Linked DNA regions of Homo sapiens: regions 1 and 3 are each linked to region 2. Evidence: fine-mapped expression QTL. A gene starts in region 2. Each other region holds a variant in brackets. All regions are shown on one strand. Distances are between the middles of the regions. Region 1 overlaps OSBPL9 (oxysterol binding protein like 9). Region 2 holds the start of OSBPL9 (oxysterol binding protein like 9). Region 3 overlaps OSBPL9 (oxysterol binding protein like 9).

Region 1 (4,222 bases), 170 kb after region 2:
AGCAGATTCTTTGGTAGAATTTTCAACTTGAGACTAACACAAGTATTTCCTTTTCTGTTCAGTTCTCCAAATGACAAGAAGTCTTTTTGCTCAATTGAAGGGGAATGGAATGGTGTGATGTATGCAAAATATGCAACAGGGGTAAGATCCTCTATTTTGCCACTTGTTTTAGGCTACATTAGATTGTACTCTATCCCTTTTTCTGGCTTCCTTCATTAGTACTTCCTTCATAATGCATTTCCTTCTACAGTATATTAGAGCTGGAACTTTAGGACAGCTCCAGTGTATGTCATCTCTTCAGGGCAAGCTTTTTCTTTCCTTCCCCCACCTTCTCCCAGCAGTATAGGTAATTATAATCATTTTTACTTTTCTCTCTGCTCTCAAAACACTTGAGAATAATATATGTAAAACAATGCCTGGCACATAGTAAGAACCCAGTAAATGTTAGGTATGTGGCGTATGTTTATAAAATGAAGCACTAAACTGTGTGTTTCCATACACACACAGTTGAAGATTTTGTATAATAAAATTTACTGACTGCCTGGCACCAGAGATACCAAAATGAGTTAAGATAGACCTTTCCTTCAAAGAACTTGCACTCTGTACTACTGCCCACTCAGTGTTCTTAAACAGAGGAAAGATGTTATGAAATTAACAGGAGGAGCCAGTTAACTGCATTTTGGACCTAGAGAATTTGAAGTGTCAAAAGCACTACAATGCATCTAACATTAGGTTAGGGGTTTATGGGTCTAGTTCCCATCCACCTCTATTGTTTTCTAGGAAAATACAGTCTTTGTAGATACCAAGAAGTTGCCTATAATCAAGAAGAAAGTGAGGAAGTTGGAAGATCAGAACGAGTATGAATCCCGCAGGTAAGCCGACATTGTTAAGTGGAACTATTGCTGCAGTGCTTAAACTTTGCCTAGGCGTAGGCACAGGGCTGGGTTTGAGAGACAGTAGGGCAGAGCATAATAGTATAGACCAAGTTTGAATTCCTGGGTTCGTATGTCAGAACTACCACTTACTACCTTTGTGACCATGGATGGCTCAGTCAGCTAACTTCTCTTTACCTTCTTTCCTGAAATGAGAATAAAGGCCTTGAGAGGAAGCCACATCTTAACTAACTTTAAAGCCTCTGTAATTTACTTCTTGACCCTTATTCTCTCCATTCATACTATTTTCTCCATCATATTGTTAAATCCAAGGGAGTTTTTCTGAAATGGAACTTCTCAGTTCCTCTAACACTTACAGGTATATATTAAGGGACACTCAAGCCCTACAGAGGTAAACTGATTGACCCAGAGTTGCACAGTAAGTTAGACATAGAGCCAGAAGTAGAATCCCAGGTCTCAGCTTCCACTATTCTTTTTCTTCTGTTGACCTTATCATACTATCAGGCAGCCCTTATTTCCTTCTTTGACAACTAGCAGTGGAGTCTTCTGAGCCCATATGTCTGTTCCTTACTCCAGTGCCCTGGTGCCAGCGTAAGGAGATTTAGTCTGTGACCTACAGCACTTAAAGCCATTTGACTTGTATTATACTATATTCAGGATGGCTGCAGGCTTTCATTCTCAACATTGGCAGCTCCTCTTACCTCTTTGTTTTAGCCTTTGGAAGGATGTCACTTTCAACTTAAAAATCAGAGACATTGATGCAGCAACTGAAGCAAAGCACAGGCTTGAAGAAAGACAAAGAGCAGAAGCCCGAGAAAGGAAGGAGAAGGAAATTCAGTGGGAGACAAGGGTAAGCTTGCCTGCCCCACCCTCCTAAGTGCTGTTCCTCCTAATTTATTTCAGTGAATGTTGAAGAAGTGATGTGCCAAACACTGTTTATAAACAAGATGATCGCTGGTCCCTACTTGAAACTCATTTCAGTCTAATGGCGGGGTGGGGAGCAGATATGAAATAGTAAGTATATTACAGAAGTACAAAGCAAATATGTAACTAAATTCTTCCTCTTTGTCTTACAGTTATTTCATGAAGATGGAGAATGCTGGGTTTATGATGAACCATTACTGAAACGTCTTGGTGCTGCCAAGCATTAGGTTGGAAGATGCAAAGTTTATACCTGATGATCAGGGCAGTAGGCATAATTCAGCAACAAACAATCTTCCTTTGGGAGAAACCTGTTCATTCCAATCTTCTAATTACAGTGGTTCCTATCTCAGGGATACTGGACTTTCTGACGCAGATGAACAATTAAGGGGAAAAGCTTCCCTTTTCCCTCTGTGGCAGTTACGATTTTGACTTCAGTCCTGAGAAAAACTTCAGGTTTTGAAAATCAGATGATGTCTTCTCCTTTTCCAAACACCACACGTTGAAAGCATTTATAAATCCAAGTCTGAAACTCTGCGCTCTAGTACTGCTGTTAAGATACACAACTTGTTTCTTAGTTCATATAATCTCGGGATACACACACACACACACATATATATACACACACATAC[G/A]TATACACACACATACATATATATAAATATACCTGATGCCAGATTTTTTTCATAAATATTCTGCCTACTGTAAATATGGGTTCCTCTGAGTTGTTTTAGAAAATTAGCGCAATGTATTAAAATCAAGTGTTAGGAAATTTCATGGTCTTACCTACAATAACTTTTATTTTGGAATTGAACTATTATTAAATTGTATCTAATCCTGGATTACAGTTTAATTAATTATTCTTAGTGCTTAAGGCTTCATAAAGTAATTTTTCCAACCTTTTTTTTAAAAATGTGCATCTTTTATTATCTTTTATGGTTAAACTTGGAAGCCAATTATTTGGCAACCTTGAATACAAGAGCTAGCTTTTCAAAGAAAGACACTTGAAATAATGGAGGATCCATTCTTTTCCTCTGTCAGATTGTATGTTCTGTCTTTAGCCCCTGCCAGGCAATTCCCCAGAATCTTCACTTAACTCATATTGCACATGTAGGGCTGCCTACCAACATTTTATCCAAAAATGTTTTATTGCCTTAGAGGGTTTGGGAAGAGTGTGTATTTATAGATCCCCACCCCACAGTGAACAAAAATAGATAGATAGATAGAATAAAATGAATGCCACAGCAGCAGATGGCTCATTCTGAAGGGAAATACAGAACTATATCTATCTATCTATCTATCATCTTTTTTATTTAAAAATACATTAAAAAAACAGGTATTAGTACCTAGCATTTAGTTAGTTATTCAATATACTGGTTACGTAAGGCCTTTCAAGAAGTAGATTCTCAGTCTGAGAGGACACAGGCCAGGGCTTCTCAAAGTGCTGCTGCAGGCTTTCTGGTCTCGCTTGGCCCATTCTGCTAATTTTCCTTTGCCAGCTCCTACAGTAACCCTGGGTTTATTAGTCTCAACAAAGGATAAAAAGTAAATCAAATGCTATGATGCCAGTGCAAAACTTCAATGGAAGCCCTAAGGCAGTAGTATAACTAACTCCATAAAATACAAACAAACACATTTTAAAATACACATTGCTTCAGGCCAACGTGACTGCAGTTTATTTATTTGACTATTTTATGGTAGGGGAGAAGGTTGAGTGTTGTTGTGAAAGCCCTGATATCAGTAATGGGGATGATACAATCTGCCAGCAGAGGAGAGGTTGGCAGGTAGGTCAGCTGCATCACTTCACAAGAAGAATTTGAATCCTCACTAGAAGGGGTACCATCCTCTTCCAGTTCATACTTCCCATATCCAACAACCTGAAAGAGGACAAAGACAAAAGTGAAAAATATGCTGACCAGATTTAGGGGTTTAAGAGTTCTGATGATAACCACCCAAACTCACTCAGTAAATGACAACCCTAGAATGGATGGAGTTAGTTAAACATACTCACATGAACGCTGAGCATTTTACTTCCTGGCCCTCTATGGGCCTTGAACCAGTTGACCAGGTCTGATTTTGAGAATGACTTCAGTGCTTCAATCTTACAAGGGAAGGGAAGATAGGAAAGAAATTCAAGAAGAAAGATAGCTCTTAAACCTAACCCCCAGGCAGATGTCCCTGGACCTGCTTAGCATCTGAAGACCTCATTTTATTCTTCCTATTCTCAGGTTACCCCTAACCTTCCAGACCAAAACGATGATGAAGCTCTCTGGCATGCCTTCACATTTTATACCAATCATCTACAATGGCAAGAGAGGTTAGCAGATGCTATAATTACAGCTAAATACCATACACTGAGCCCAACACCCACATCCCCTTAGTGTCACCTCCCAATTACATGGTAGCTGCAT
Region 2 (4,245 bases):
GTAATCCCAGCTACTTGGGAGGCTGCGGCAAGAGAATCTCTTGAACTTGGGAGGTGGAGGTTGCAGTGAGCCGAGATCGTGCCACTGCTCTCCAGCCTGGGCGATAAGAGTGAAACTCCATCTCAAAAAAACAAAACAAAACAAAACAAAACAAACAAAAAAAACAGAAACTCATTCATTTCTATACCATCTAACTACTGATCCACTGGCATCTGAACCCATACTCTCTGCTCTTCTTTCTTGTTACTTTGGATAAAGTATCTCTGCTAGTATCAAAAGTCAACCTTTGCACTTGGGCTTGGGGTCTCAGTCTTTTCCTTTCTTTCTTTTTTTGTATTTTATTCCAGTGTTTTGCCAACACAAAAAGAGGTCTCAATCTTATGAAGGGCTTCACTGCTGCTATTCTCTCTTTTCTCTAGGATGTCCCCAGTTTTTCCCTCTCTTGAAAATCAGCAAAGTAATATTCTCTAGTGTCTTCGATCTAAATAATAATTTTAAAAAAGGACAAAGAAAGCCCTTCCCTTGACCACACCTCCGTTTCCAGCTAGTGCCTCATCTTTTAGTTTCCTTTTTAGCTCTTTCTCTTGATATTTGCACGGCTGGCCTTTTCTTATCCTCCATATCTAAGTTTAAAGCCACTTCCTAAGAGGCCTGCCCTATAACCACCCCCTATAAATTAGCTACCCACTGACTTCCTATTAAAATAATTTATTAAATTATTTGCAGTGTTAATCAGTATTGGATATTTTTCTTGTTTACTTGTTTAGTGTTTGCTTTCACCACAGAATTTAAGCTCTGAGAGAGCTTATTCACTGCTGTATTCCCAGGACCTCCAACAGTGCCTAGATATAGTAGGTGGTCAATAAATCCTTTGGTTTTTTTTTTTTTTTTTTTTTTTTTGTGTGAGAGAGAATTTGGCTCTGTCACCCAGGCTGGAGTGCAGTGATGCAATCTCGGCTCCGAGGTTCAAGTGATTCTTGTGCCTCAGCTAGGACTACAGGGTGCGCCACCACGCCCAGATAATTTTTGTATGTTTAGTAGAGATGGGCTTTTACCATGTTGGCCAGGCTGGTCTCGAACGCCTGATCTCAAGTGATCTGCCTGCCTCGGCCACCCAAAGTGCTGGGATAACAGGTGCGAGCCACCGCGCCCAGCCAATAAATGCTTAAATTGCCCCTGTAGGCTGTTAGTGATCTATCCCTACTTCTTTGACCTTATCTCCCACCACTTTCTCCCTGGCTCACTGCTCCACGCACACTGACCTCCTTGTTGATCCCTCAAGATGCCACGCTCACTCCTAACATTTGGTCTTTGCATTTGCTATTCCTTCGTCTTGGAAGGCTCTTCCACCAGGCTCCCTCCTTCGCTTTCTTCAGGTCTTTGCTTAAAAGTTACCTTTTCACTCAGGCCTTCCCTGTTTGGGAATTTAAAATAGCAGTCCCAGCGCTCTCTCCTTCCTTGCTTATGTTTTTCTCCATAGCATTTATGATTTTTTAATGTACGATATAATTTACTATTTATTTTACCATTCCCCTCACCTGTCATGAAGGCTCTGTTGTATCCCCAATGTCTAGAAGAATGCCTAGCACAAAACAGCGAATATTTATTAAATGAATGGATTTGTGGAATGAATGCATAAATGAATATCAGATATGAAATCTTTTGGAAGTGGAAGGTATCATGGCCAGTAAAATTATTTATTAATATGTTCATAATCTTTTTTCTTTACTCTAATCCCATGACAGATTATAAATAATCTTAATAGCAGTATTCACGTTTGCATTCTCGCATCCGTGGCATGGAGTCCTACACACAATAGGCGCCCTAAGAAAGCGTGTTTGACTTGATCGCTGGAGCATCTGCCGGCACCGCCCAGGACCCGCCCAGGACCCGCCCCGCCCCCTGCGGCCCCGCCCCCCGCATGCTGAATGCCATATAGGCGAGTGACGTCAGGCCGTTTGTTGTCATTGGCGGCTCCCAAGATGGCGTCCATCATGGAAGGGCCGCTGAGCAAATGGACTAACGTGATGAAGGGCTGGCAGTACCGTTGGTTCGTGCTGGACTACAATGCAGGACTGCTCTCCTACTACACGGTGAGTCCTTGGAGGGCACAGCTCCAGGCGCCTCGGGGCCGCGTTTCCTGGGTGGAGGTGGGGGACCGGGGTTTTAGGTGGCTGAGTTGAGGTTGCTAGTCTGGGGGTGCCGCCGTACGCGAGGGTTCCCTTGTTGGGGAGGGTTTTACGTCTCGGATAGCCAATGAGGGTGAGGGAGAGAGGGGCGCAGCCAATAAATAGAAACTAGCTGTCTGATTTATGGGTTGGGGGTGAGCCAAGTTTCTTTCTTAGGGTCCGCTATTAAGCGGTAGTGGGGTCCAGCATGGTTGTGAGCGGGTAAGGGTGATCGTAGTCATGGCTTAAAAGGTCCAGTCTTGCGGTTCATGCTGTCTTCATATGTTGTCATGGACTTTACACTGTCCCACCAAGGCCCTGTAGCCGGCCGCACCCCTTAGCTTCCCTCCAGGGATTGAAGAGCTCTGCTTCCTCGGAGGAGTGGCCAGAGGAGCCGGGACAGGTCCAAAAGTGACCAGCCCTCGGGCAACACCAGGGGGTCCGAAATCCCTCCAGTCGGTTCAGGTTGTGTGTCTCATTCAAGGGACGCACCCCTCTATTTAGCGGGAGGCGAGCTCAAACGACGCCTTAACTTTTGAGAGCCAAGGATTTCCTACACGCGAGACTCTTGTCAGCGAAGAGAGACAAGTGATAGTGCAGTGTCCCCTTACAGTTACATTCTGGGTTCAGGGCTTCACTGTTGTTAACATGAGTTGGTGGCCGTGGAAAAGTAGATGAATTGCTGTGAATCTTACGTGGTTGTGTGTGTGTGTGTGTGTGTGTGTGTGGTTTTTTTTTTGAGACGGAGTCTCGCCCTGTTGCCCAGGCTGGCGTGCAATGGCATCATCTCGGCTCACTGCAACTTCTGCCTCTCGGGTTCAAGCGATTCTCCTGCCTCTGGCCTCCCTAGTAGCTGGGATCACAGGCATGCGCCACCACACCCTGCTAATTCTTGTATTTTTAGTAGAGACGGGGTTTCACCATGTTGGCCAGGCTGGTCTTGAACTCCTGACCTCAGGTGATCCACCCGCCTCGGCCTCCCAAAGTACTGGGATTACAGACGTGAGCCACCGCGTCCGGCCTTGAATCTTATGTTTTGACTATCCCCTCCACCCTCATCGCATTCGATATGGAGAGTAGGTGGTATTAGGGAGATAACTTACTTAGAAAGGTACTTTCTCTGAATGGTGTATAGTTGACGATAGCCGATATGAGGGAAGAAAATACATAAGAGGACAAAATAGAATGCCCAGAAAGCTTTAGAAAATAATAGAAGACAGAAAGAAAAACATGATTATGGAAGAAGGATTAAGGTTGATGAGAGAAAGGGGACACTGAATTTATTTGTTCATTTAAAAAATATTATTGAGCTGCTATGTGCGTTTTCATGCCAGCAAGAATAGACAGTAAAAAAGACATTCACTGTTCCTCTTCTCTGGAGCTTATATACTAGCTTGGTGAGTCCTTTAATTCATTTCACTCCTAATAACTCTGCAAGGTGGTTATTCATTATCTCCATTTAATATCCCCAGTTACAGTTTTGAAATCTGAGGCTCCAGGCTTTTAAAGCAATTTGCTCAACATCACATAGCACTAAGTGATGGAATCAGGATGCCAAATTATTGACTTTTTCTACTAAACTTCGCTTTCACTACAGGAAGGAGAAAAGTGTAAGTTGTGAGTTACTAAAGGCAAGCTTGCAAGAGTAAAAGTATTACTTTCATCATCCTTCAACTATCAGCTTTCTTTCTCTACATAGTTTTTAAAGGGAAAAAGACTAAACCTTAATGAGTCTTAAACACATTGTTCAAGATTGTCTTTAGGTGGGCATGAAAGAGAGGCAACTGAATATTATGTCCTGAAAACTCTGGAATTATGAAACCCATGGCTTAGATAAAGGAAAAGTAATATTGGGTTTAAGTAGATGTGATAATCAGAAAATCCCGTAAACTCTATTCAAGATAGAGTGATTTCAGTGAGTGACACTATGCAGTTAAGTTACTTTACAAATCCCAAATTTGTGTGGATCTGAATCTAGGACCATACTGGAGAGGCCCCCAGCTGAGGTTCTTGGGAATGCCTAGCCCAGAAAGAATCTTCCTTTTTCCTCTTTTTCTTCTTTTCATGTATCCTTTTT
Region 3 (4,245 bases), 130 kb after region 2:
TGCTTTCAGGTAAGGAATAAGAATTTTTTGTTGTTGTTTTTTGTTTTGTTTTGAGATGGAATCTTGCTCTGTCGCCCAGGCTGGAGTGCAGTGGCGTGATCTCGGCTCACTGCAAGCTCTGCCTCCCAGGTTCACGCCATTCTCCTGCCTCAGCCTCCCAAGTAGGTGGGACTACAGGTGCCTGCCACCACGCCCAGCTAATTTTTTGTATTTTTAGTAGAGGTGGGGTTTCACCATGTTAGCCAGGATGGTCTCGATCTCCTGACCTCATGATCCGCCCACCTCGGCCTCCCAAAGTGCTGGGATTACCGGCTCAAGCCACCGTGCCCAGCCAGGAATAAGAATGTTTTATATTATTCTTACAAACCTTAAATTGAATCACGTGAATTTTATTAAAGAGAACATATAATTCATAAAAGTCTGGAATTTTTATACAAATAATTGATTTAGATAAAAAACAAAATACAACAAAAAGTACTCCCTTCCCAACTTGCTTGTACTCACTTAGAATGAGTACATTTTGGTAAAATTCTTTAAATGACTAGCCAGTAAAAAATAACCGTCCTTCTTTGTGCTTCTGATTATTTCTGTTTAAACTTATTATTTTTCACAGAAAATTGAAACTCTCAAAGAGACAACAAATGTAAGTTATATGTTTGATACATTCTGACTTTGCATTAGAAAATGTTTTAAAAAGTTATTTCTATTTTAAGCTGCCACTATTGATGACAGCAATTGAGATGTTAGTTTTTATGAATATTATACAGGGGTGCTTAAGCATTGTATTTTTTTTTAAAGGAATTTAAAATAATACTAATAGAATAAGCCCCTTAATCGAAATTGACTTCATGTACCATTTACCTGTTTCTGGTCTCGTTTGAAATCTTGATAAAAGGTGTCTTCCACGCACAGTGGATATGTTATTTCATATTTTAAAAAAAATAATTAATTTCTTTGATTCTTAAGGCAGGGTCTTACTATGTTGTCCAGGTCTCAACTCCTGGGCTCAAGCGATCCTCCTGCCTCAGCCTTCAAAAGTGGTGGGATTGGCCGGGCGCGGTGGCTCACACCTGTAATCCCAGCACTTTGGGAGGCCGAGGTGGGCGGATCACCTGAGGTTGGGAGTTCCAGACCAGACTGACCAACATGGATAAACCCCATCTCTACTAAAAATACAAAATTATCCAGGCGTGGTGGCTTATGCCTGTAATCCTAGCTACTCTGGAGGCTGAGACAGGAGAATCGCTTGAACTGGGGAGGCAGAAGTTGCAGTGAGTTGAGATCGTGCCATTGCACTCCAGCCTGGGCAACAAGAGCGAAACTGTGTCTCAAAAAAAAAAAAAGTGATGGGATTATAGGCATGAGCCACTGCAGCTGGCTTCTTTCTTATTAAAATATATTATAATTCAAGTTTTCTGATATAGTGGACTTCTGACATTATATAATGGGCTACTTATGAGATGTGTACCTTGCTCAAAATTTTAAAACAGGTAAAATAATAATTTGATTCACCAGTGTTTTGACAGGATCCTTTATTCTCCATACTTCCATCAAAGTCTTTTTATTTTTTTTTAAGAAACAGGGTCTTGCTGTGTCATCCAGGCTGGAGTACAATGGTGCAGTCATAGCTCACTGCAGCTTCGAACTCCTGGGCTCAGACAATCCTCCTGCTTCAGCCATTTGAGTAGCTAGGGCTATAGGCACACGCTACCACACACAGCTAATTTTTATTTTAATTTTTTATAGAGATGGGATTCTGCTATGTTGCCTAGGCTGGTCTCCTAGCCTCAAGCGATCCTCCTTCCTTGGCCTACCAAAGCAGTGGGATTACAGGTGTGAATCACCATACCCAGCCTATCAGTGTCTTAGGTAGATTTCTTAGGGTTGCTTGCTGTTGATGTAAGAATTCGTAAGTTAATCAGATTCGTATGTCTTTCTGTTTGAAGTGTTGAAAAACCATTTAGAGCCAAGCACGGTGGCATGTGCATGTAGTGCCAGCTACTCGGGAGGCTGAGACGGGGATC[G/A]CTTGAGCCTCTGAGTTTGAGGCTGCAGTGTGCTATAATTGTGCCTGTGAATAGCCACTGCAATCCAGCGTGATCAGCATAGTGAGACCTTGTCTCTTAAAAAAAAAAAAAAAGAAAAAAAAATTAGATATTATTTAGTATAAATTAACAATTTGTGGCATTCGTTAAAATTCATAGAACTGCTAATGAATAACTTCATTTGGCATTATCAGCATACTAGAACCCACTAGATCCAAAGAGGATATTTCTTGTGTAGTATAGACTTAAACTCTATACATCTGAACTGATTTTTATATTTTAAGCTTTAACATTATATATCCATTTATTTGAGCCAAGATCCTAAAATCAGTGTTTTGTTTTTATAGAGCATGGTAGAATCAATTAAACACTGCATTGTGTTGCTGCAGATTGCCAAAGTAAGTAAATTTTACTTTCAATTACCTTTGTGTATGGAGTTCAAAAATTATAATGGCGTTTTTCTTTAATAGCAAAAAAACTCAGATCTGAAACATAGTACCTTTCTACATTAAACTGTATTGTGAGCTTATTCTATGGAACAACTGTTGTGTTTGGCTATTATCTTAGCTACTGTTTCTGGTAATGTCATTTCTGGTAGCTGGGAAGGAGGGGAGCATGTTTGAATGACTCATCCCTTCCTTCCATTTTATCCATTATCACTGCTTAGAACAGGGACATATTTTACAAAACCTTCCACAAAAAAAGTTTTTCTTAGAAAATAGAGAAGTAAGTTCTGACAGTTATTGTCCATAATGAAGAATATAATAGAGATATATTTTTTAAATTTTTACGGATTTTTTTCTGGTAGTGAACTACGTTAGTGGATTTTAATTATTCTTCCTTATTCATGAAACAAAATATATTTTGAATTATTGTGGGTTAAAAATTTCATATATGTTGTCTCTTTTTCTGAAAAATTTTGGTGTATTCAACCTAAATATATATTTTATTGCCTGAGAGTTTCTGAAATAAGAATATTATTGTTTGAGAATAGGAATTTTTAAAACTATTTCTACCTCACTACACCCCTTTATTTCCAGCAAGTGGCTAGCAAGGGGTGGGTGACCAGCTCCACAGCCCAGTTGAGAAATGTTGTTTGAATGAGTTTATAATTACTCATCTCTTTTACTTCTTCAGTTGCATATGTTTGTTTGCCAAATCATAGAGACTTTTAACCTACTGTTGTTAATGACACAATAGCATAGGACAGTCCATTTGCATTTGGATAGTAAGGATATTTAGCTTATAAATTAAATGGGGCAATGTCATTTTCTTTTGAGGCCTGATTTAAAATATATTTTTTATTTTTTGAGACAGTCTCGCTCTGTTGCCCAGGCTGGAGTGCAGTGGCACAATCTCAGCTCACTGCAACCTCTGCCTCCTGGGTGCAACTGATTCTCGTGCCTCAGCCTCCTGAGTAGCGAGGTTACAGGCATGCACCACCACGCCTGGCTAATTCTTATATTTTTAGTAGAGATGGGGGTTTCACCATGTTACCCAGGCTGGTCTGAACTCCTGGCCTCCCAAAGTGCTGGGATTACAGGCGTGAGCTACCAAACCCAGCCCAATGTATTATACTTAAAGTGTCAGAACTTAGGGCTTATGTTCTGTTTCTAGATGTTAGTGATATCTAGATTTCCTATGTATGTGTCTAAATTTTTCATTTCCTGTTGTAGATCATAGTATATTCCAAAGCCAAGCAGAAGGAAAGATAGGATTGGAGGCACAAAAGAGATAAAGTTTTTATTTTAGTTTTTCTTGGCTCTGGAATTACATAGGTGAGTAGAAGCACCTATAGTTATCCAAAAGCTTACCTACAGATAACCAGTAAACCACACCATGCCCTGTTTGAGTGACTAGGTATTTTAGGGAATACATACTGCCTTCTATTGAAGATTGGGGAAGCAGAGGAGCTGATACAGTGTTTAAGCCAGTTTGGGTGATCTCTGAAAATCATTCAGGACTTTAGATAGTTGTACAGTAGGTCAGCCTAGCCTATTTCAGTAGCTCACTGTTTAGCCACTCATCGAGAACATTTTTAGTGTAATTTGTACTTGCTACCTGTCTGTGTTAGCCCAGCTTAATAAAACTACGTTTTAGGGTTCTTCGCAATGGATAACTTGGATCACGTAAATGAAATTTGGCCTTTTATTTATTCCAGAAGGAAGTTTTATTGTTGTTAAGTCTTCTTATGTACAAATAC

What was found. PIP is the estimated chance that this variant, and not a neighbour inherited with it, causes the effect. A credible set is the group of variants that fine-mapping cannot tell apart.
Region 1: its variant is the best candidate, but not a certain one, in a credible set for the expression of OSBPL9 in whole blood (INTERVAL, PIP 0.82).
Region 3: its variant is the best candidate, but not a certain one, in a credible set for the expression of OSBPL9 in esophagus muscle (GTEx, PIP 0.68).

What each region holds. Positions count from the first base shown.
Region 1 is chr1:51,785,746-51,789,967 of GRCh38, forward strand. It overlaps OSBPL9 (oxysterol binding protein like 9), which reads left to right. Exons shown (of 24, transcript NM_024586.6): 21 at 63-141; 22 at 781-872; 23 at 1,608-1,743; 24 at 1,970-3,474. The coding sequence ends at 2,044. NRDC (nardilysin convertase) reads right to left here. Exons shown (of 31, transcript NM_001101662.2): 30 at 3,823-3,912; 31 at 3,465-3,688. The coding sequence ends at 3,491. Among named protein-coding and RNA genes, the nearest start is that of MIR761, 49 kb to the right of the region's middle. RefSeq lists silencers at 1,198-1,398, 2,878-3,078. The variant G/A (reference allele first, on the strand shown) is at 2,447.
Region 2 is chr1:51,615,129-51,619,373 of GRCh38, forward strand. OSBPL9 (oxysterol binding protein like 9) reads left to right here and starts at 1,964. Exons shown (of 24, transcript NM_024586.6): 1 at 1,964-2,093. The coding sequence starts at 1,983. It overlaps LOC105378719 (a long non-coding RNA gene), which reads right to left. Exons shown (of 3, transcript XR_947339.4): 2 at 1,539-1,582. RefSeq lists enhancers at 1,661-2,569, 2,570-3,477.
Region 3 is chr1:51,747,756-51,752,000 of GRCh38, forward strand. OSBPL9 (oxysterol binding protein like 9) reads left to right here. Exons shown (of 24, transcript NM_024586.6): 7 at 614-643; 8 at 2,390-2,440. Among named protein-coding and RNA genes, the nearest start is that of MIR761, 87 kb to the right of the region's middle. The variant G/A (reference allele first, on the strand shown) is at 2,025.